Homo sapiens: one gene and its partners. The protein of the gene in region 3 purifies or fractionates together with the protein of the main gene of each other region. This does not show direct contact. Each region holds a gene or a part of one and is shown on either strand. Other genes may lie near its edges.

Region 1 (6,929 bases), on a different chromosome or scaffold from region 3:
TTTTTTCTTTACTGTAAAATATACCCATCAGCTTTTTTTTTTTTTTTTTTTTTTGAGATGGAGTCTTGCACTGTCACCCAGGCTGGAGTGCAGTGGCGCAATCTCCACCCACTGCAAGCTCTGCCTCCTGGGTTCACACCATTCTCCTGCCTCAGCCTCCCAAGTAGCTGGGACTACAGGCGCCCGCCACCACACCCGGCTAGTTTTTTGTACTTTTAGTAGAGACGAGGTTTCACCATATTAGCCAGGATGGTCTCGATCTCCTGACCTCGTGATCCACCTGCCTCGGCCTCCCAAAGTGCTGGGATTACAGGCATGAGCCACCGCACCCGGCCACTAGCTTTTCTAAGACACTTTGTTTGTTTTTAAATACCAGACCTCTGCTATGACAATGTTTGATTTTGTAAACTTCAGGTCAAATCATGTCTTCTGAAAAGTAACTGCATATAAAACACGTTGAGACATTTGCTTAAGATGTTGATCCTGGTTTCAAGTAACAGCATAAGGGAATTCCTTTGAATTTTCTTTTATCAAGCACCCTTTACTAACATCACAAAGATGCATGCATATTCCTTCATTTAGTATTTATTGAATGTCTACTATGTGCAAGGCACTCACCCATGGCCTGACAGACCACATTCAAGTACAAAGAATCATTAGAGCCATTCCAAATCTAAGTGTCAGAACACTTTGAAGCAGGATGTAGAGTGGTCAGAATGACTTGAGGTAAAGCAGAAACACTCAACAACCAGTACATTAAAAGGTGATTTTAATTTTTGACATTCCTTGGGATGATATTCCTTTAGGAAGAAGTAGACTGTGTTAAATTCGCATCCATGGCACTGCTTCCTGAGGCAGTAATTCTTCAAAGCCTTTCCTTCCGTGTCAATACTTTCCACATTTGTGCGTTTGAATGGATCCATGTGTTTAGCCATTATTTTACTAAACACAAAATCATTTGCACAAAAAAAAAAAAAAAAAAAACCTATTACCATACTTGTCTGGTCATACAGAATTTTAGCACCACAGAAGAGGAAAGATGTTTGGCCTGAGAGGGCCTACACTCCAGTCTGTGTAACCTAAAAGCAACTTAAGCCTGATTTCGTCATTTTAAGGGTGCTGATGGTAAGCAGGAGTCAGGAAGAATGGTCTAACAAAAAAGGCTGGCCCAGCTGTGGTTGCCAAGTCTAGTTCTGGGAGATCCTGGGCACGGAACTACTGCGTGGCCACTGCTTTCTTCAAGACACAGAATTTGCAGGGCTCTTCCCCGCCCTTGGACAGCCATCTAAGTGTTGTAACCTTGGGGCAAAGTAATTTCTCGTAAGTCTTCACTTTGTCATCTATAATATAGTGACAATTATCAAAGAACATTTGGAAGACTACATGAGAAAAAAGGAAAGCCCTTAGCCAGGTATCTGGTGTACAATAGATGATCAAATAAAGACATGTTACCTTAATTTGACCTACAGGGAAAACACTCTGGGACTTCGTTTACCCTTAGTTGAAAACAGAACGGAACACTTCTTTTCTTTCTTCTTACCCCAAGCTTCCAGATGTATTTTATGTCCAGTAGCAATTTGATATTTTAAATTAGCATATAAATATTTGCTTTATCAGATATTCTGATGTCCTGGTATCCATTGTTATAACCTGTATATAACCTGTAATCCTGAACTGCTGGGATTACAGGCATGAGCCACCACATCCGGCCATAAACCCAGTAATTTTGTATGGCAGATAAAACATTTTATGGAATATTCTTTATGATAGCCAACTTACTGTAGTAGTCACATCTGACCTTTGATAATTTTTTTAAATTAAGTTCTGATGACAGGAAAAGATAGACCAAAATATTTCCCAACCTGGCAGATATATACTTAATCTGTTCAGCTCACAACAGAGAGAAATGGTCATATTGAGATGGATAAAAATTCAGATTTGAGACTTCCATGTATATAGGCATACCTGTGTCTGCAAATGAGCACATTTTGGAACGTAGGAGTTAGCATACAGTATGAAAGTTGAAAGCAAACAATGCTGGTTTCTAAAAGTGGATCCCTTTTCTTCACTGAACATCATCCTTAGACACCACAATTTCCAATATACTTAAAAACCATCAACCCCTAAAAAGTTATAATGATTTGCCTATTGATATAAAAATTTTCACAAAACTAGCGAGAAAGAAAAACCCCTTGACTCCAGGAAAACCTTTTCATAATGCATCCCCCAAGTTGGGGGATTAAATCGCTGAAATGTTTATTTAGCACTAGAGAAGTAAATTCAAAGTTGCCTGTGGGTAGACGTACAATAGAATTGGTTGACAAAGTTTGGTTTATAAAATATACTTACATATTGTTTCTTAGGCAAAAATCGGCAGCAATCTGGAATAATTCAGATTTTTTATGAGATTAATTGCCAATCTTTTTATCTGTGACGATAATGCCAAAAATGACTCAGAGCCAATAACCTTCATCTGTCATATGGAAGAAACAATCCTAGGGCAATAGTTTTTTCAAAAGCGGAACTGACAAAGATAAGCGTTTAAAAGGGTCTTGATCAATTAGTTACAGGAACATGAAAGAAAGTGTTCCACAGAGAACTGTGTCTCCTAAAATCTCTTTCTTCTATCATCTACCTTACCCAAAATTTCTCAATCCAACCACATCTACCTGCTGGTCCATCAGATACCAGATGCCTTTACATCCAAAATTCTCTTAATGCTTTTTTTCCCCCACCAAAGTTCTCATTACAAATAATATAGATTGGAAGTTTGGAGGATGGAGGGGAATAAAAAGGAAAAGTAAAACAAAGTCACTTTCCCCAATCCATATATAAAACTACAAAAGAGTTTTCCTGTATTGAAATTAACATGCTTTTGTAATGAGCAACGCCTTAGTGGTAGGGTATTCAGTGAATTTAAACTAAGTTAACAGAATCTGAGAGGCAAAGAACTAAAAACAGGATATACAGTTACCCCTTAAAATGTCATTTCTGTTACCAAAAAGCCTGCTTCAGTACCAAGTTCCAACATATCTGAGTTATGCTACTTCACTTTTAGCCAATTCCAACTTTGATACTTTAAGAAAAAATCATTTTATTGTTAAAAAAGAAAAAAAAACTTAGATCTTATAGTTCATGAACTTCTAGGACAAGATAAATTCCTCTGTTTTAGACACAAAATAGATCACGTCAGTTAAATAGACTTTGTTTTAATTCACTCACTGAAACATCTCCAACTACTAGCAAAAATTCCGAATGTCTGAATGCACACTACTCTTCCTAATGTGGGGAGACAACTGTGTGCTTTGTATCTTTCCCACTCAAATTGGCTTATAAAATGAAATTATTTTAACTATCCAATGGAAGGTACATAATTTAAAACATCCTATAGAAATGACATGTTACTAGTAATTTACAATTTTAAAAAACAGCCACAAAAAAGTCAAAGCTAAAAACAAGATTTTTACTATGAATCAGTGCTTCTATTATCCTTCTGAAAGAAGTTATATTTTAATGTGATGTAAAGGCAACATTGAAATTTCTTCTTTAAATTAACCACCTAATTTATCCCTAAAATTACAAAGAATCAGTCTTTTACAGGTCAAGTGCAGTAAACTAAAATGTTCTCTCAGCACAAAGCAGCACTAGAAAAAGTAACAGTTATAGATGGGAGTTGACTAGTTTTGCAGTGGCTGCGCCATCAATAACAAACAGACATCAGACGGTATCCATCCCAGAGCACAGACACTACTACAGACTAGATGCGAAGAATGCGTCACACTCTTGGCTGATAAATGTCCTTTGTCTTTGACTCTTTCTAGTTTGAATGAAGTGGATTTTTTAAAAGTTTAAATCAGGTCACATAAGTTGGCTGCTTAAATAACATCATGATGAGGTATGAAAAGCTCTGAATATCCCTTACATTCAGCAGGATTTACCAGAGATGTATAATAGCTTGTCAGGGGCAACTTCCAAATAGTTTTTACACTTTGGGGTTATAATGAATTCTAGAAGAGGACAAGTCTAAAAAGGTTTAAAAGGGTATGCTCTGAAACAGAGGTGAGCAACCTTTTCCTTCAGAATTCACTTTGAACAGCACATCAACAAAAAAATCTTCTCTGGTAGTGTATCCCAACATTGAGTCAAGATGGCCAACTAGCACCGAGAAGTCGTATTGAACTCATTTGCAGTTGTCTTGGCAATTAAGCGTATTTTTTCATTCCAGTCCAAGCACAAATGTGGATCACTGAACACAGTACTGGAAGCGCCATTTGCAGGTACAGATTGCAGTCATCATTAAATGAGCCAGAAGGCAGATACTGTTTTTATTTTGTGTGGGGGGAGGGGGAAGCGGCACAGTACTAGCAGGAGATGAAATAAAATGATTAGGAAACAATGAGGTTATAAGATCACTGTTCTTATTTGGGTTAAGCAGGTCATGTTGAGAAGATGGTTATTTCTTTCAGATAAGGATGCTACATTAAAGGAATCGTGTGCAGCATGAAAAGATTAGAATCGAGCTGCACCTAAGAAAAAAATCCCAAAGTTACTTTCAAAAGTATGTGTTATCTGCCAGTCACAGAGGGGAAAAGCACCTAGGGTGAACTCCAATTTTTTAATGAGGACCTTGATCAGGACCACAAAGCCTGAAACATTTATTTTAATGCAGAAACACAGCCCCTAGTTACACTGATTGCATTTGGGAAAATTGGAGGGTTTTTTCGTCCTTAGTTTTTTTTATTAAATTACAGGATATGGTTTTCGATTACTAAGTATTCGAAATCCTCATACCAGCAACAGAAATGAACCACTTCCAAATTCTAAGACACAAAAGACCAAAGAGAAGCAAAAGCGATACAAATTAATATGTGCCCCTCTCCTTTCTGCTCTAAGGGAATCTACAAACCAGTATCACATTTAGGAGTCAAAGTGTTAATTCTTCAGCATTCCTGACAACTAGAAAGCACATTCACTGAAGGCTGAAGGTGAGGGAGTGGATGGTTTAACTTTAATATCTGAAGAATGGCGCCAATAGAGGAAAGAAAACCATCCAATCTCAGTAAGGATTAATGCAAATCTGGCTAGAAAAAGCCACCAGGTAATCCAAGGGTTCACTGTGGAAGAACTCATGAAAAGTACTCTGAAGTATACACAACAGGTCTAAACATCTCCCTTGTCGTAAGTAGTTGTGTAAAATTCAAGATAAAGATTTAGTCTCATCTTTTAATGTCAGTTTTTTCCCCCATGTTAAAGGGAATGAGGAGGAGTCCTCTTTTATTCCCCCACAAGAAAAAGGGAGCCACATTAATATGTGTATATTCCCATAACTCTAATGTAAGTGCGGATCTCCAAAGCCTAGGGATTTTTCCGTAAAAGAGAGTGGGCCGTTCTGGTTACCCTTTTATTAGAAGGGTATTCCACCACAGAGAGCCGGAGGTTTTCCAGATGTGTGTAAGAGAGCAGGTGCGCAAGGCAAGCAAATGAGCGCAAACAGTATTATGGAAAACATTTGAGAAGTTAGCTCCATGAGGACTGTGGGCTCCACAAGAGGACTCGACTGGGTAGCCTGGTCTGACACAGGTACGTGAAAGCAGAGTATTGCTTCAAAGCTGGAAACCTTCCATAGGAGCCTCACACTGTTGGAAGATGTACTGCTGCTGGTTAAGGTCAACCTGGGGTGCAATGCTGCTGTCTTCATCTTCGGTCCCGAAGTAATGCTCAATAAGATCAAAGGCCTTTTGGTAGATCTCCTGGTTTTCATGACTCTGTAAGAACTCAATTTTATCCAGACCTAAAATGAAGAATAAAGGAAAATCTTTATTGAAAACTTCAATAAATATTGGAAATTCCATAACTATATATTCCTAAACTATATTTTGTCATATATCTCTGTTCTTGATGTAAAGAAAGATTATTTGTATCTCATAAGTATTTTATAATAGCACAGAAATGACTGCTGGGATTACATCTGAAAGCTAGTATTATAAACTGACATCTTAAATACATATGCAAGTAATATCCAGTCTGCAGAAGCAGCAATTTCCTAACAGTCCTCTTTTCATCCAGTGCCTAGCAGTAGTAGTATTGTTTTTACTGAACTCTATCTATGACCCAATTCATTCTTGGCCATAAACTTCTTCAACCAAAGCATCTTACCATAAGCTTCTTCAATCAAAGCACAGTAAGGGTTAATGCCAGTGCCATTCCTTTTGGCTTCCTGTTCTCCAAGCCTCAGGATATTTTCCAAGCCATTTAGGGCAACCTGTACAATCTTAGAGTCCATGACCGTGAGGAGATCACAGAGCGGCTTGATACAACCCAGTTCTACTAGGTACCTAAATACAAAGAATAATGTAGTCAAACAAAACTTTTAATTTTGTTAAACTTATGAAATTAGTGAGCAAGTCATCCTCAACTTCACTGCAGAGACTTAAAAAAAAAAACAAAAAACAAGCACTCTTTCAACCATACAAGCTATACCTTTTCACAAAACAAAAACAAAAAACCCTCTAAATAAATTATCCCAAACCAGTTCTCTGGCACCTTTCTCCATTCTTTTCTCTTCACAATTTATGCATTCCAAAAACAGGAATACTTACTTATTAATACCTTGAAATGAGCGACTCATCAAAATAGTATAGGTTTGAGTAATTTCATCTTTGTTTCCATAGATAGCCACACCTCTCAAACATGACACTCTTGGTGCTAAAAGCCAGCACAAGCCTGATAAGCCAAATCTTTCAAAGATGATTAGAATTTTAGTAAAGTAAGTTGTGGGAAGAATAAACAAATGTCAGAGGATTCTAGAACTGGTATTTTTCCTTTAATTCAAGCAGAATGTATAACCGTATGTAATCAAGATTAATCATACTTGAACTTCAGAGACATGATTACTGTATCACATTCACAGTAAATAGTCATGTCATTTT
Region 2 (7,219 bases), on a different chromosome or scaffold from region 3:
TAAGAACACATGGACACAGGGAGGGGAATATCACACACCAGGGACTGTCGGGGGAGGGGGGAAGGGGAGGTAGAGCATTAGGACAAATACCTAATGCATGTGGGGCTTAAAACCTAGATGACGGGTTAATAGGTGCAGCAAACCACCATGGCACATGTATACCTATATAACAAACCTGTACATGTATCTGCACAAGTATAGCAAAACTTAAAGTAAAAGAAAAATAAATAATTTAAAAAATGAGAGTTTTTAGTTAAAAAAAAAAAAGTTAAAATCCTTGATTTTTCCCCCTGTGATCCACACAAAATAACATAGCATCAGAATAGGTATTTTCTTGGAAATGTGAAATAACTCCACACTCAAATAGTTAAAATCATGAAATAAAAAAAAAAAGGTGAGATGTGTTCAATTCTTGATTTGCCTTATTCCTTTTAGCCTTTCTTTTTAAAAAATTAAAAGATATATAGCTGGATTTGTTTGGCTTTTTCAAAAATGTAAGATAAATTAAATTGTACTCATTTAGTACTCTTGTTCATTGGCTCTTTTATTCCCTAAATATTAATCAATTCTCTGCTCTTTGGAAGGCTCAATGTTAGTACTGGAGATGAAGGAGATGAGAAGAAATAAAAAAAGAAAGTTTTACCCATTGTCCAAAGAATTTTAGTCGTTAGGAGCAGCTATCATACAAATACATGGTGAAAGTATCTCTCAGATCCAAAGGACAAGGTTAAAAAAGATGGAGGCAGGTAAGAAAGTGGGAAGGGTTCCAGATGAGAGTGTGTAGTGTAAATGCTCTGAGAAAAAGAAAGCTAGGGCCTTGGGAAACTGCAGGTCCCTCACTGGGAGGTAATTTTAAGTGAGGCTGCATGCTGGACTGGAGGAGGCTGTGGGAGTGGTGAGCAGGGCAAGACCCTCAGATGGTAAGCTTCAGAGTTGAGAGACTAAGCCTATAATGGAAAAGTGCTCTTAACTTTGGAGAAAACTGGAAAGAAGCTCCACCAGGGGCAGCACTGGAAAGTGACTATGCTCTTGTCCCAGTGCAGATGAACACAGTGCAGAAACTAGCTGCTTTATATACATTGTATCCAGTGAGCTTCGGAGAAATAAGGATGATACTCCCTTAAGAAGAAATGATAAGAAGCCGCTGGGTACTCTGCACTGGGCTGGAAGAGTTAAGAGTCAATTTCATTAAAAGGAGCATTCAAATTAGGCTATCATGTACATAATTTGGCAAGCTCTAGGCAAGTTCTAGGTGTTTGGTGCTTGTTAAATTAATGAAAATAAAGGTGATTTAGATGGAAGTGACACTGGGAGGGAAGGAAGTTGTTAGTCCTTGACGCAAATGCGTTGTGTTGCACCTAACTGGAGAAGTCTACCTCACATTGAATAATTTATCATTTAATGGGGAAATATTACTTGATTTTTCGTGCTAATCTGCATTTTGGCTTATTGGGTTTTCTTTCTTCTAGAATGCTGCATATTCTCTGACATCTGTTGGATTAAGAAAAAGCAATCACAGTGGGATGGGTGGTATCATCAAGTTAATCATAGGTAATAGCTGCCATGTTGAAACCTCAATATGGGCCAAGTATTGTGCCAGGTGCTTTACATACATTAACCACATTTCACCAATTCCACAAGGAAGGGGCTTATCAAACCTATTTCACAGATGCAGAGCCTGAGGCTCACAGAGTTTAGTAATGTGCCTGAGTTCACATAGCTGGTAAGTGGCAGGGCTGAAACCAGACCCCCAGTCTGGATTAATCTACATCCCACACTGTTCCAGTCTTCCCATTCTGAGGCTAACCTCATGTTGCTTCATTCATTTTTTCTCTCTATTTTTGAAAAATGTATCTCAGGCAATAAAAAGAAGGACTCTGTGCCCATACTACTGGGTCAAATATATTCCCAGACCAATATGAATGCCAAAATAAATGAGAGGCATAAATAAAAAAAAGAAAAATAGTACCTGGTGTCAATACGTTCATCTACACAAGCAATATCAGGTAATCTCAAAAGATCAGAAGCTCCCAAAATCATCCTGGACAGTCTCTTCCCTGTAGAAAATAAATGTGTCAGAACAGAATTTTCGTGAGAATCTAAGTCTAGCAAGATGGAAAAAATCAGCATGTTTTTTTCTCTGACAGCCCACTACCTGTCCTGGAGCTTCTGCCTTGTGCTTCAGCTTCCCTATCTCACATCACTCCCGGAACACGGCTCCTTCTCTGCAAGGTTTGCAGTAGAAAAACTGGTCATGTTTGCAGGGATGTGACATTTCCCAGAAAGCCTTTAATGAAAGATGATCCCCAGTTCAGAGGACATGGGAAACCAATATCTCAGAATATATGAGGTTATGCATAGACTGACTCTCATCTGCTCTCAGACCTAGAGAGCTCGAGACAGAACTGTCAGGCTGAGCATCCACTCATTTAATCTTCAGACCTCTCATGGACATGGCCTAAGAAGGTCAACTTCATGTCAGTAGATGCAGTTCAGCCTCTGATAGATATGAACGTGAGGACCCTGAATGAAGATGATGGAAGGACCCAGCCAGAACTGTGGGGTCCCAAAAAGTCCAGCTCAGGCTGTCAGCCCTTCAAAGTCCAGAACAGCCCTGGCTAAATGTAGCTCACCACAACTTCCAGTTCAGAGGTCGGCAGAGGGTGAGTACCTTGATCTGATGGGAACAGCCTCAGGTCAGTGGAGGATGGAGTGCCCCAAGACTGGCCAGGTGTCATGGTGAGGACCCTGAAGAGAAATAAGAGAACTGTTATAGGACCAACGAGTTTCTGTGTCAGCTGCAAAGTAACAGACCCACTATAATAAAACAGCAAAGTTTGCAGCAAAGAGTTTAATGATTGCAGGGTGCCAAGTGAGGAGATGAGAAGAGACTCTCAAATTCATCTCCCCAAGGAGTTCTGGGCTGGGATTTGCAAGGAGATCATGGAGGGCGAGGGGCTGGAGAACTGAGGTTGTTGATTCGTTGGGGTAAAGGGGATGAAATCATCAGAATGTGGAAACTGCGTTTTTTTTTTTTTAGTCAGCTCCTGTGGGGTCTTTTGGACCAGCTGATGTCAGTAGGGTCCTTTAGAGCAGCTGGCATCAGTGGGGTCCTTCAGACCAGCTGAGTCATTAGAATCATCAGTATGCAGGACCTTAAGGAATATCTCAAAGAAAAAAAGTTTCATTATGTTAAAATTGTTATCTATAGAGCAATTAAGGGCAACTATAATCTAGTAACAGGATCTACATGATTCTGGGATAATAGGCACCAAACTACTATGAGGAAGCAGGTCAGAGAGCAGCTGACTTCATGATTAATGCTGAATGTTCTGCAAGCTTGGCGTATCTTCATTTATCTCCCTTCCCTCTTCCCTGATTAATTTTATACAGTTCATAGGGGCAGTTTCAAAACCACCCACCCCAGAACAGAGGAGCCCACAAATTCCACCAATGCTGTCACCCTTGGGGAGCCCAGAAGAGAATTATGAGGTGGAGAAATCCCATCAATATGCCTCGTGTGTTTCACAGAGGTGAAGACCTTGGACTAGTGGAAATGGCCCTAGGTCAAAGAGACAAAACCCACGCCCTAACAGGAATCAAGGTGAGGATCCTAAGTGTTACGAGGGGGCTCTCCCCCTTGCAACACCAGCAGAGGGGGCCAAACAGAGCCCCTCGCCATTGTTAGCACCGAGAGGCCCCAAAATAAGTATCTCTGAATCCCCTTCATTCCACCTGTATAGTCTCGGGGAAGGAAGGGCCTTTGTCTGAAGAGGGTGACCCCAGTTGTGCAGAGAGAGAGTCTTGGCTTTCACGGGAATCAAGGTGAGGACTCTGAGGGCGGATGAGAAGACCTCTCCCCAAAAAAGGCACATTCACAGAGCCCTGCCGCTGCTGTCAGGCCTGTGAGGCCCAGGCAGGGGTGGCCTGTTTGGCACGCTTAGATTTCCACAGTGGGGGCTGAGGGAGGTGGGGGTATTGTTTGGAGGCTGGCGGATTTGGGTCAGCACGCATATTCGTCCCAGGCTGCTAGATACTGAGGTGAGGACCCCTAGTGGAGACGAAGGGACCAGCAACGCTAGAACAGTGACGTCCGGTAGCGTCCAGCCGTCAGCCCTCAGACGCCACGGGCTGCCGGATGTGAGTCATCCTGACTTCCGCTTTGAAAAAAAAGACCCGAGCGGATGTGGCTCATCCTGACTTCCGCTTTGGAGGCGAGGACCCGAGCGAGTGTAGGGGGTGCGGCGTCTGGTCAGCCAGGGGTGAATTCTCAGGACTGGTCGGCAGTCAAGGTGAGGACCCTGAGTGTAAACTGAAGAGACCACCCCCACCTGTAACAAAGAGGGCCCCACTAAGTCCCGCTTCTGCATTTGGTCCTGAGAGGCTCCGGTAAAGCCGTCCGGCAATGTTCCACCTGGAAAGTTCCAGGGCAGGGGAAGGGTGGGGGGAGGGGCAGTCGCGGGGGAAGGAGGTTTGGACGCAGGGAATAGGCCTCATTCTGCACGTAGGGTGGGTGTAGGCCCTAACTGAAATCAATTTGAGGGCCCTAAATGTGGACTGAAGAGAACATCTCCTACCCTTAACAAAGGTGGCCTCACTAAGTCTCGTCCCTGAAGACGGCTCTGGGAGGCCCCAGCAAAGCTGTGCCTGGAAAGTCTCAGGGAGGGGAGGGCCTTGAACCTAGGAAGCAGCCCTGCTTCTGCTCATATGGCATCAACCTAAAACCTAACTGGGGTTAAGGTGAGGACTCTGAGTATTAATGAGCGGACCTCTACCCAAAAGAGGAGTCATGCTGGGCAGTTCCCAGGCCGAGGTGACACTGGGTTTTAGATGGTCCCAGGCTGACATGACAAATGCAGAGCAACCTGACTTCCTCTCCCGGGACTAAAGAAGTTGAGGGCTACATCCAAGACCCACATCTGCTGCCAGCAATAGGAAGGTCAGGGCAAAGCTAGCAAGCTGAGATGCTCTCTAGTTTCCTCTGGAGGTGGTCTCAGGGAGGTGAGGGTCTTGGTGTAATGGGGTAGGTCTAATGCGACAGAGAGGCCCAGTCTCTAACAGGAAGCAAGGATGTGACACTGAGTGATGAGGAGGGGACTCCAACCAGAAAGAAGTGCCATATAGAGCCCACTCTTGTTGTCAGACCAGGGAGACCTGAGCATGGCATGTTGAGTTGTACTCACTCTCCCCAAGACATCTCAGAGAAGTGAACGACCCCATTAAAGAGGGCAGCCTGGCCGGGCGCGGTGGCTCACGCCTGTAATCCCAGCACTTTGGGAGGCCGAGACAGGCGGATCACGAGGTCAGGAGATCGAGACCATCCTGGCTAACACGGTGAAACCCTGTCTCTACTAAAAATACCAAAAAAAAAATTAGCGGGGAGCGGTGGCGGGCGCCTGTAATCCCAGCTACTCGGGAGGCTGAGGCAGGAGAATGGTGTGAACCTGGGAGGCGGAGTTTGCAGTGAGCCGAGATAGAGCCACTGCAGTCCGGCCTAGGCGAAAGGGCGAGACTCCGTCTCTTAAAAAAAAAAAAAAAAAAGGCAGCTTGAGGTCAGCAGAGGGAGGGTTTCCAGGTTGTGCCAGATGTTATGATAAGAACTCTGACGACTGCAGGGGGCTCCCACCCCATATTAGTGGGAGCCACACAATCCTCAGTACTGTCAGCTCTGAGAGACCCCAGGCAGAAATGTGAAACAGAGGTGCCCATCAGTTCCCACTCAAGGGTAACAGGGAAATGAGAGTTTTAATCTGAGGGTGGTGATCACTTGTCAACAGAAGTAATGTACTAATTGGTCCATTCTGGCATTACTATAAATACCCAAGACTGGGTAATTTACAAAGAAAAGAGGTTTAATTGGCTCACAGTTCTGCAGGCTGTACAGGAAGCATGATGCTGGCATTTGCTCAGCTTCTGGGAGCAGGGCTCAGGAAATTTACAATCATGGCAGAAGGGGAAGGGGAAGCAGACATGTTACATGGCCAGAGCAGGATCAAGAGGCCAGGGGAGGCGCTACACACTTTTAAATGACCAGATCTCATGAGAAGTCATCGTTAAGGGGAATGGTGCTAAACCATTCATGAAAAACCTGCCCTCATGATCCAGTCATCTCCCACCAGGCTCCACCTCCAACATTGAGGATTACAGTTAGACATGAGATTTGGTGAGGATACAGATCCAAACCATATCAGGGAAGAATCTTAGACCCTCTCATGAGTCAAATTTAGAGGCTGAGTTGGGACTGTATGTGGGACCATCTATCACAGGGCAGTTATCTGCCTGCCACAGCTTTTACTTTTGGGAAGACCACATTTGGTCAGATAAGGCCACCCTCACTTCCTCCTATGGGTTCTCAGGGATGTTCACTCTTACCATGACGACATAGGCCTCAGTTCAATAAAAAGGAGAGCTCCTCTACCAGGAGTCAAATTGAGGAATCTGAGAATTCAAGGAACCACTGAACCCTTAACAGTGGAGACATCAAAGAATCCAGTCCAACCCTTTATTTTCAGCCCTAGAAAGCTCAGGAAAGGGTTATCAGGTTTAGTGTCCCCCTCTCTTTTTTATATAAGATCTAAGAGAGGTGAGATTCTTAGTCTGACGGTGTAGCCACCACTCAGCAGAAGGGGGCTGGTGCCAAGCCCTACATGAAGCCAAGGTGGGGACCTTGAATGAGAGCTGAAGACTCTAATGATTCCAAGACATCAAAGACCCCACTGAACTCTCAGCACTGGGTGTCACTTCTCAGGGTGGTGGTTGAGGCACCCCTTCAATTTCTTCTCATGAGTCCCAGGGTGCTTTGAGGTGTCAAATTCACAGTAGCGGAAGGGAGTGGCTCAGGCCCTGCCAAGACTTCATATGATAATCCTAAAAGTTAACTGATAAAACCCCAAACACCAGAAGACAGGAGGCCGCACTGCCAGTACCTCCTGTCACCATAGTAAGCCCAAGGAAGGGCTGACAGAATGCAGTCTGAAACTCACTGTAGGGGTTCTGTGGTTCTTCTCTGGTGTCTCAGGGGAAAGGATAACCAGGACGACAGGAGCCTTGTGGCTTTCTAGAACAGTGCCTTCAGGGAAACTTGCAAAGGCAGGCTTCCTTCAGTAAAGCTAAGATGGGGTCTTCCAGCTGAAGGTGCTCACAGATCTCATTCTCCCATCTCCAGGTATACTAACCATCTATTCTTCTGCCCACATTTCTTGGTTTACCCAGCCATCAT
Region 3 (8,227 bases):
AAATGCTTACAACTTCTCATAAAAATAGTTTGAAGCAACTATTTTTTCTTTTATTTTTTAACAGACACGTTCAACATTACGGGCAACATTTTTAAAACCTTAAGCTTTACAGACTTTCAAACATTCAAATACTGTGGTCCCTTTCCTTTGATGTGGTTTATTCAGCTAGAAAAGAAAACATGGTAGACAACTTAATACATTTTCACCAAATTGAAAGTAGTACAAAAATTTTAGGACTCTACCGAACTACACATCGTACCTAATGTATCATTAAAAATAGAAGACAGTATTTTCTTCAGCAAATAAAACAGCATACTAATATGCTGCTAATGCATACCTTTTAATGTGTACTGTCATTCATAAATTATTTACAACTGCTACTGTGTGAAGAGAACTAGAATGTAAATTTTCTGCAAAACTGGAAAAAAAGCAATACAAAATTTGTGAAAGCCTGTGTTTTATACTATACAAAAGTCAGTTTTTCTCTTCAAATACCAGATATTGTATGCAGTGATATTTTGGACACATTATAGTAATTCTTGAGGATGTTTTAGTGCTGGAGGTAAGTTTACAGGCCTCGATTCTTCATCAAGGAGTACTAGATCTTCTATTTCACTGCCTCTGTATTTCCTTTTACATATTTTTACCACCACCTTTTTCTTGAGAAATAACTTCAATGCTTCTCTTGATGCAACTGCTTTTGCATTTTCTTTGCTTTTTCCACAGCCAGTGCCCAAATACACAGACTTGCACCTCAATTCACAAACAATACTTTCTTGAGAGCTCTTATTTTGAGGCAGATCTGCCAATTCTTTTAGTGGGACAAAAAATACATCCAGTGTTGCTTTCAGAGCCTCAATAGCTGCATTTAGGAGCTCTCCATGATTCACATTGGGACTAAAGCCACCAACAGCTACCAACTTCCATGCCACCGTTTTATATAGTCTATTGAAAAAAGGTTGCTTCTGTTTCACATCTTCATTGGTTAACTTGCAAGAGAATTTGACAGAACTCTCACTTGACTGTGAAGTACTTTTAGAAGGCAACTGTGAGGTGCTAGTCTGAGAACTACTCTTAGAAGCCAACTGGGACACACTTGCTAAGGAAGTGCTTTTGGAAACCAGAGATCCACTGGTCTGGGAGCTGCTCTTGGAAGCTAGTAGTGATGCAGCTACCTGGGAAGTGCTCTTGGAAGTTAGCAGCGATGTATTTGTTGAAGAGCTGCTCTTGGGAGTCAGTAAGGATGTGCCTGATGAGGAACTGTTTTTAGCAACTGATGATGAAACACTTGCCTCTGAACTAGTTTTGGAAGTTAACCCACTTGAAGCTGTCTCTGAACTAGGTTTGGAAGACAATAGTGGCAATTCTACCTCTGAGCTTCCTGAGGAGCCCAACAAGGGCACCTCGATCTCTGAGCTGCTTTGAGAAGCTGAGGCTGAAGAGCCTTCCAAAGCACTCTTTTTAGGTGATCCACTTTGTTGTCTAGAATCAGTGGATTGGGTCATGTGACTATTCACACTGGATTTCAGCAAGGAAACAAATGATGCAGAACCGTGTTTATCTGGAGCTTCTGCTTCAGAAGCTTTCCCAGATCCTGCCGTTGTTACCTGAGAGGAAACGCTGCTGCTGCTTTGGCTGGAAACAGATCGATCTCCATCACTTGTAGAGCTATTCTGACTGGAGATGCCAGAGCTCCGAGCTGAGTTCCCACTCTCTGATTTGATGGCCGACCCTATACACGTTGAACTGTTTTCCTGCTGAGCTGATGCACGTTCTGTCTTGGCAGAGGTTTTTGCGTGATCTTGCTCAACTGCAGAACTGTTTTTTCCTTCTATAACTCGTTTTTTGGATGGCTCTTCTACCCCTTCTAAAAAGAAGAAAAACATAGATATGTGACTAAGAATACCTCGTACAAAACGGGTGATGAGACAAATACACATTAAAATAAAGGCACAAAGTGAAAACATTTCAAGACTAATCGTTTCTTTAAAAAGTGTGGAGTCATTAATTTCTTAAAACAGTGTTGAATAACATCATGAATGTCTAATATTAAAAAAATAACAGCATCAGACAACAGTGGACACTTCAAAATCTAAAGCAGTCAAAGCAAACTATCAAATTCAAAGCCTAAAGACACAGATATATACTTTAGGTTTAACATTCCAACTTTATTACTTATTAATAACATAAAAATTCTGGCTTGTTAAAAAAATTAGTAACAATAATTCCTAATTATATCAAACTTATGCTCTAAACTCCTATGTATGTTCACATCTATGATCTGCTAACCATTGCTACTCGATATCCCTCTTTTCTTCACCTTGGCAACCAGTTCATCTCTTGTTGTATAGGTTGGAGCATCTGTCACTTTGATGCCTTCAGCCATACTAAGTATTTTATCCATAACTTTTTGAGGGTATCTGAAAAAGAAGGAAAAGTCATTTTTAAAAAGTGTTTTTTCTAAGGTCCTACTTGTGCAAAAAACAGGCCACAGGGACTGCATTTCCTGGCTGCAATCAAGAAAGTGAACCAACCGCCAAGAACTGTTTCCTGGAACCCCATAAACAAGTGCCCCAGGGTCTGGGAGGCAGGGCACCTCCTCACTAATCTTAAATCTCGCACCCGTCCCCAAGAGCGTTGTTCCCTAACACAAGCAACCCTACCAGCAGCTGCGCCCACACCACCGGGCACACAGACGTCCGGGAATCATGTCGGCTCCTCGCAGGGACGCCCTTCTCCCCCTTAGAGGGCAGCCGGGCCGGCGGATTCCCGCGCTTCACAACTTCCCCTCCCCGCCGAGGCCGGTCCCGCGGAGGGCGCCGGGCCCCGGTCTGCAGGTGGCACACAAAACGAGGCGTGCTGGTTAGGGACGCTGCCTCACTCACCGGCACCCGAGGAAGACGTGGTTCGCCCAGGCCATGGAAAAGGAGATGAGCTGCTGCAGCTGCCGGTTTCGGGTCCCGCTCTCGGCGTCGGCAGCTTCATCCGTGCTAGCGGAGGCAGCGCCGCCAGCGGGGGCCAGGTCCCCGGCGTTGCGAAGCAAAAAATCCCGGCGGTGGCGCCAGTGTTTGTCAGTCTCGCCGTCGCAGCGCAGCGCCTCCACCCAGGCTGCCACCCGCGGGTTCTGGCTCAGGTACTCCGACACCTCCTGCGCCATGTTGGGCCTGCAGGCCGCGAACACAGCTGCACCGGGAGACAGGCAGGACTAGCGGGGCGAGCGGCCCTGTCACTGCGGCCTGCACCCGCGGCCCTCCAGATAACGCCCCTCCGCAGGCCTAAAGACCAAACAACAGCGCCCAGAGCCGCCGAACCGCCCACTTCCGCCCACCGCCGGCTTCTTCCCTTTTATAACCTCGCCGCCGCCGCGCGCCCTCGCGTTCTTCCGGCGCGAGCCGGCGCTCCCAAGACGCTTTGCGGCGCCGGGGCCGCTGCGACGCTGCGTCCCCGTGAGGCCACGGAGGGCACCCCGGGGGTGAGGTGGGCGGGCGTCGGGCGTCTCCCGCCCCACGAGGGCGGACTGCAAGTCGAGCTGGCCTGGGACGACCGAGTCTCGGCGGAACCCCGGGCGTTCTGTCCTCGCTTTGTGACGCCGCGCGCTCCTGCCGTCCTCCTCCCCCGCCGGGTCAGCTGCGGCGCCGGGAGCAGAGGCGAGAGGGGCAGGGCCCGGGCAAGGGAGGCAGCCGGGCGCGGCGGCCAAAGTCCGCTAGGGGGGCGTCCCGGGGGACCTTGAGCCGCCCGCAGCCGCGGGGCCTGTGGTCTCCGCCCTGAGACGCCTGTGTGTGAGCGGGGCCAAAACAAACAAAAGCCGGCCTCCATGTTAGAGTGTTGGGAGCTGCGTCTCGCGCTGCTTTCAGTGTGCCCGAGCGAAGCGTTCCGAGGCCGTCGGGGTCTCCGCGCCTTCAGGAGGGCGGGAGTGCCAGTCCCCTTACATAGCAGCAGTAGACAGTAAGGTCACACGAGGACCTGGCTCCGTGTTGCCGTGAGGCTTGCAGCCTTCGAAGCTGGCCCTGGCCCCGCAGCGGTAGGGCTTGTTCCCGCAGTTTATTAGGTCTCTAGTTAATCCAGGCATTGCCTTCCTGTTCTGGTCAGTAGGAAAACAACACCCCGACAACGCTCTGTCTCTAGAATTTCCTAAAATCAACAGCTTTACCACCAACCGGCAGATGTCCGGAGGTGGAGTGGAAATGTACCTATTTATCTATAGGGCCCCAAACCTCTCTCCCTGTTAGAGCTGTTTTTTCCTTCTATATATTTTTTTCCACTTTACATTTCCCACAGTTACGTACTCTAACTGCTGGCTGGCTTATTGTTACGTTTCCCATTCCAGGTATACATGCACTGTAAGATAAATACGTTAAATGATATAAATTATGAAATTTTTCTTTCAATAAATGTAGACTTTGATGTAAAAATGCATGAATCAGAATAAGCAAGCAAAAAAAGGTCACTTTAGGTAAGATCAGATAAGGTTAACTGTGTAATTTATGTGCATGCTGGAACAAAATACAGCTATTGTATGAAAACAATATTGCCCATTTTCCTGCCATACCAAAAGAAACTACATAAAAACGGAGGCACAAAGAAATTTTGAAGCTTTGTGATTTTGCTTCTAGTTTGCTGTTCTTTCCTCCTTTTCACAGATAATTGCTGAAAATCTAGAGGGGGTGGACGGATTGCAGAAATCTGGCTATTTAAAAGGTGGAGAAATTACGATTTCTCCTTTCATGAATTCTTTGGCAAGGGGACCATGGCAAGTAAAAGAAGCTATGATCGCATACCTAGATTATATATGTGCATTTTAAATCAAGAATGTTCTCACGGCCAGGTGCAGTGGCTCACGCCTGTAATCCCAGCACCTTGGGAGGCCGAGGCGGACGAATCATGAGGTCAGGAGTTCGAGACCAGCCTGGCCAATGTAGTGAAACCCCATCTCTACTAAAAATACAAAAGTTAGCCAAGTGTGGTGGCACGTGCCTGTAGTCCCAGCTACTCTGTAGGCCGAGGCGGGAGAATCGCTTGAACTCAGGAGGCAGAGGTTGCAGTGAGCCGAGACCAAGCCATTGCACTCCAGCCTGGGTGACAGAGTGAGACTTCATCTCAAAAAATAATAATAATAATGTTCTCACTTTTTTTCTTGTTGCCCTGTAGTCTTCTTCCCACTCATGGGCTTCATTGCCTTGAAAGGAGAACAAGTAGAGCCTGAATTTCAAACAATTTTTTTAATTATAATAAAAGCGATAGAGTCTGAAAGATGGAGTACTTGTGCAAAAACCAGGTGCTTGGAATAAAAGATACATGCATTTTTCTTTTTTGATTCTTAAAAAGTTGACTTTGCATATAAAGATTCAAAGACTATGAACCACAAGTAGCTGGGACTGCAGGCGGGTACCACGACGACAGGCTAATTTTTTATTTTTTTGTAGAAACAAGGTTTCACTGTTGTCCAGGCTGGTTTTGAACTCCTAATATCAAGCAATTCTTCTGCCTCGGCCTCTCAAAGTGCTGGGATTATAGGCATGAGTCGCTGTGCCCGGCCTCATTTTTTTTTAAAGACCCTCCCACCTACAGAGACAAATTCCTCTCTAAGCTGGGGGAGACGTTCTGAGAGAAAAGGTGAGAGGAGAATTTAGGTGATAACTAGGAAAGTCTATGGGAGTAGGGAATAAGATGCAGGGTGGGAAGTGTTGGCTGTTAGAAATTGCTAGGTAGATTTTGGGTCTAAGAGCAGAAGGACTTGGCTCTGCCCGAGTTTCTGAGAGAAGACAGCCCAATCGTGCCCTGAGCCTGTATGCGTTGGCCTTTAGAAATGAACATAGAAAGGGCCTTTTATAGCTTTGATAACCAACTATACAACTCCCTCCTCTGCTCCTAACACACGTGTGTATATATATATACATATGTGTGTGTGTATATATACATAACACACACACACGCATTTACGCACATATATCTCACAGGGCCTAGAGGAGATCCAAAAGGTTCCCAAGAAAGAGTTGAATGGTGAAGTGCCTACCAAGCACCAGGGTCCAAGGTGAATGAGGCTAGGGGTGGTCAGCTTGTCAGCAAAGGGAGATGCAGCTAGTTTTCAGCAAGTCATCAGACCAGTGCCCGTCAGGCCGCATCAATAGGAGAGGACCCTCAACCTCTCCTGAAATGATCAGTGTGCATTGCTTGTGCTGGTAGATCAAGCAGTTATACTCCCAGCAGAGCCCACAGGGAAGAAAGCACAAGACAATGCTAGGATGATAACCAAGCCTCACCCCACCACTGCCCTCACTAGAAATCTACTCAGAGGAGAAAAGGGAGAGAATTCTAATGAATTGAGAAAGATCCACTATCATCCCAAATTGAGTTTCAAACAAGTGACTGAGTTCACAGGATTAAATTTTCTGCTGTAAGTGGAAGCCCATTCACTGAAACTGGTTCTGTAGCATATCTCTCTGAAGACATCCAATAAAAATTCCAGCGGCAAGCTGGCTTTTCTGCAGATGGCTTTCCCATGGAGCAACATGAAGGGATTGCCCCTGTTCCTGGATGTGACTGTGGAAGCAAGAAAGCCTTTGGCAGGAAGGTCTGCATGTGGAGAGGCTTGTGAGGAGCAAATACTCCAGTTATGGCCAAGGTTATGACTTGATGTGAGAAATACTTCATGGTGAGGGGAAATATTTTATGCTAATGATGTGTGAGGACACAAATCTGCCAAATTACAGTGATAAGGTGGGATGTTCTGAAAAAGTAAGAGAATGTTTTAAGAGTGATCCCCTCTGTTAGAAGCTTTGAGAAATCAAGTAGGATGAAGATAGGTAGTAACAGTCTGATTACGGACTGGAGCCACCTGTGAGCTTGGCAAAAGCCGTTTTTACTGCAGTGATGAAGACTCCATATCAGAGTGAGTTCAGGAGTCGGAAATGGAGATATTTGGCTGTAAAGGGGAGAAGATAGAGGAAGCTGGACAGGGTCATGGGGTCAAGGTGGCTTCAATTTCAGATGGGAGTAGCCTGAGCATGTTGCCCACTGCTTGAAGGCAACTCACAGAAAAGGAGAGTTTGAGGATCTGAAGAAAAAGAGGGTAATTAGCAATTTCTGCAGACATAGGTGTGGCTGGGATCCACACACAGGTGGAGAGATTAACCTTAGGTGGGCAGACACTTCCTCTGTTTTAAAAGAAGACGTTTGTAAGTTTGGAGCTGAGACGTTGACATGGAGGCCATCTGATGGTGCAGAGAATGCTCGCAATGGATATTTTAGAGGGCAGAAGAGCAGGCTGCCTAGATGAACATAGTCTTTTTGGCCAATTTAAAATTACAGGCTGGGCGTGGTGGCTCACACCTGTAATCCTAACACTTTGGGAGGCCAAGGTGGGCAGATTACTTGAGCCCAGGGGTTCAAGGCCAGCCTAGTCTACATGGCAAGACCCTGTCTCTACAAAAAATACAAAACATAGTTGGGTGTGTTGGTACATACCTCTAGTTCCAGCTACTCAAGAGGCTAAGGTGGGAGGATCACTTGAGCCCACGAGGTCGAGGTTGCAGTGAGTTGTGATCGCACCGCTGCACTCCAGCCTGGGCGATAAAGGGAGACTGTCTCAAAAATTAAAATAAAATAAAAATATAATGTGTGCACACAAAAATGAAACATCTAAGTAGAAAAAAAGAGGCATAAATGAAAGCAAACAATCTCCCTCACTCAACCTGGTCCCACTCTGTGGACATCAGCATTCATGTCATTTCTATCTTGATTTCTTTGGGTGATTATTTTCATAACTCCAAATTAAATGCTTATACTTCCATTTCTTATTTTTTCAACTTTAAGCAGTACTTATTTCACTCCTGAATGTTGAAGCTGAGAAATCCATATCATTTACACTACCCCTTTTTTCTCCTAATTTTTGTTATCTTTTATTGTTTTCCCGTTGGCTACCTGTCATAAATTCAAATATTATACTTAATCATCATTTTTAAATCTATCAACTTCAGGCAGGTAGCTCTTGATTTCCACATCATGTAAGAAAATTCTGGAGAGACCATATTACAGATATTTAGATATTCCCAAAATATGCGTTCAGGATAAAATCTAATCTCTAGTGATAAATCGACAGCAGATGGATAATTCTGAAGTTTTCCTACTTACCTGCAGGATTTATGCCATTGTTTTTACATTAAGCCTTAACATTAATAAATGTTAATAAATTTGTTTGCTGCTGTGAGGATTAAGTAGATTGCGAAGT

What was found. The genes of interacting proteins can lie anywhere in the genome.
Region 1: the proteins of CDKN2AIP (region 3) and KPNA1 purify together in Homo sapiens (co-immunoprecipitation; 4 studies listed by BioGRID and IntAct, with this or other methods). This does not show direct contact.
Region 2: the proteins of CDKN2AIP (region 3) and MAGEB2 purify together in Homo sapiens (co-immunoprecipitation; 2 studies listed by BioGRID and IntAct, with this or other methods). This does not show direct contact.

The regions. Positions count from the first base shown.
Region 1 is NC_000003.12:122,421,382-122,428,310, forward strand, and holds the end of KPNA1 (importin subunit alpha-5), read right to left. Parts: intron 6,336-6,929; coding exon 6,157-6,335; intron 5,792-6,156; coding exon 5,604-5,791; 3' UTR 521-5,603; downstream 1-520. UniProt on the Homo sapiens protein: Functions in nuclear protein import as an adapter protein for nuclear receptor KPNB1. Binds specifically and directly to substrates containing either a simple or bipartite NLS motif.
Region 2 is NC_000023.11:30,211,364-30,218,582, forward strand, and holds the start of MAGEB2 (melanoma-associated antigen B2), read left to right. Parts: upstream 1-4,199; 5' UTR 4,200-4,292; intron 4,293-7,165; exon of another isoform or gene 7,166-7,212; 5' UTR 7,213-7,217; coding exon 7,218-7,219. UniProt on the Homo sapiens protein: May enhance ubiquitin ligase activity of RING-type zinc finger-containing E3 ubiquitin-protein ligases. Proposed to act through recruitment and/or stabilization of the Ubl-conjugating enzyme (E2) at the E3:substrate complex.
Region 3 is NC_000004.12:183,439,728-183,447,954, reverse strand, and holds the start of CDKN2AIP (CDKN2A-interacting protein), read right to left. Parts: upstream 3,320-8,227; 5' UTR 3,158-3,319; coding exon 2,886-3,157; intron 2,421-2,885; coding exon 2,290-2,420; intron 1,868-2,289; coding exon 528-1,867; 3' UTR 1-527. UniProt on the Homo sapiens protein: Regulates DNA damage response in a dose-dependent manner through a number of signaling pathways involved in cell proliferation, apoptosis and senescence.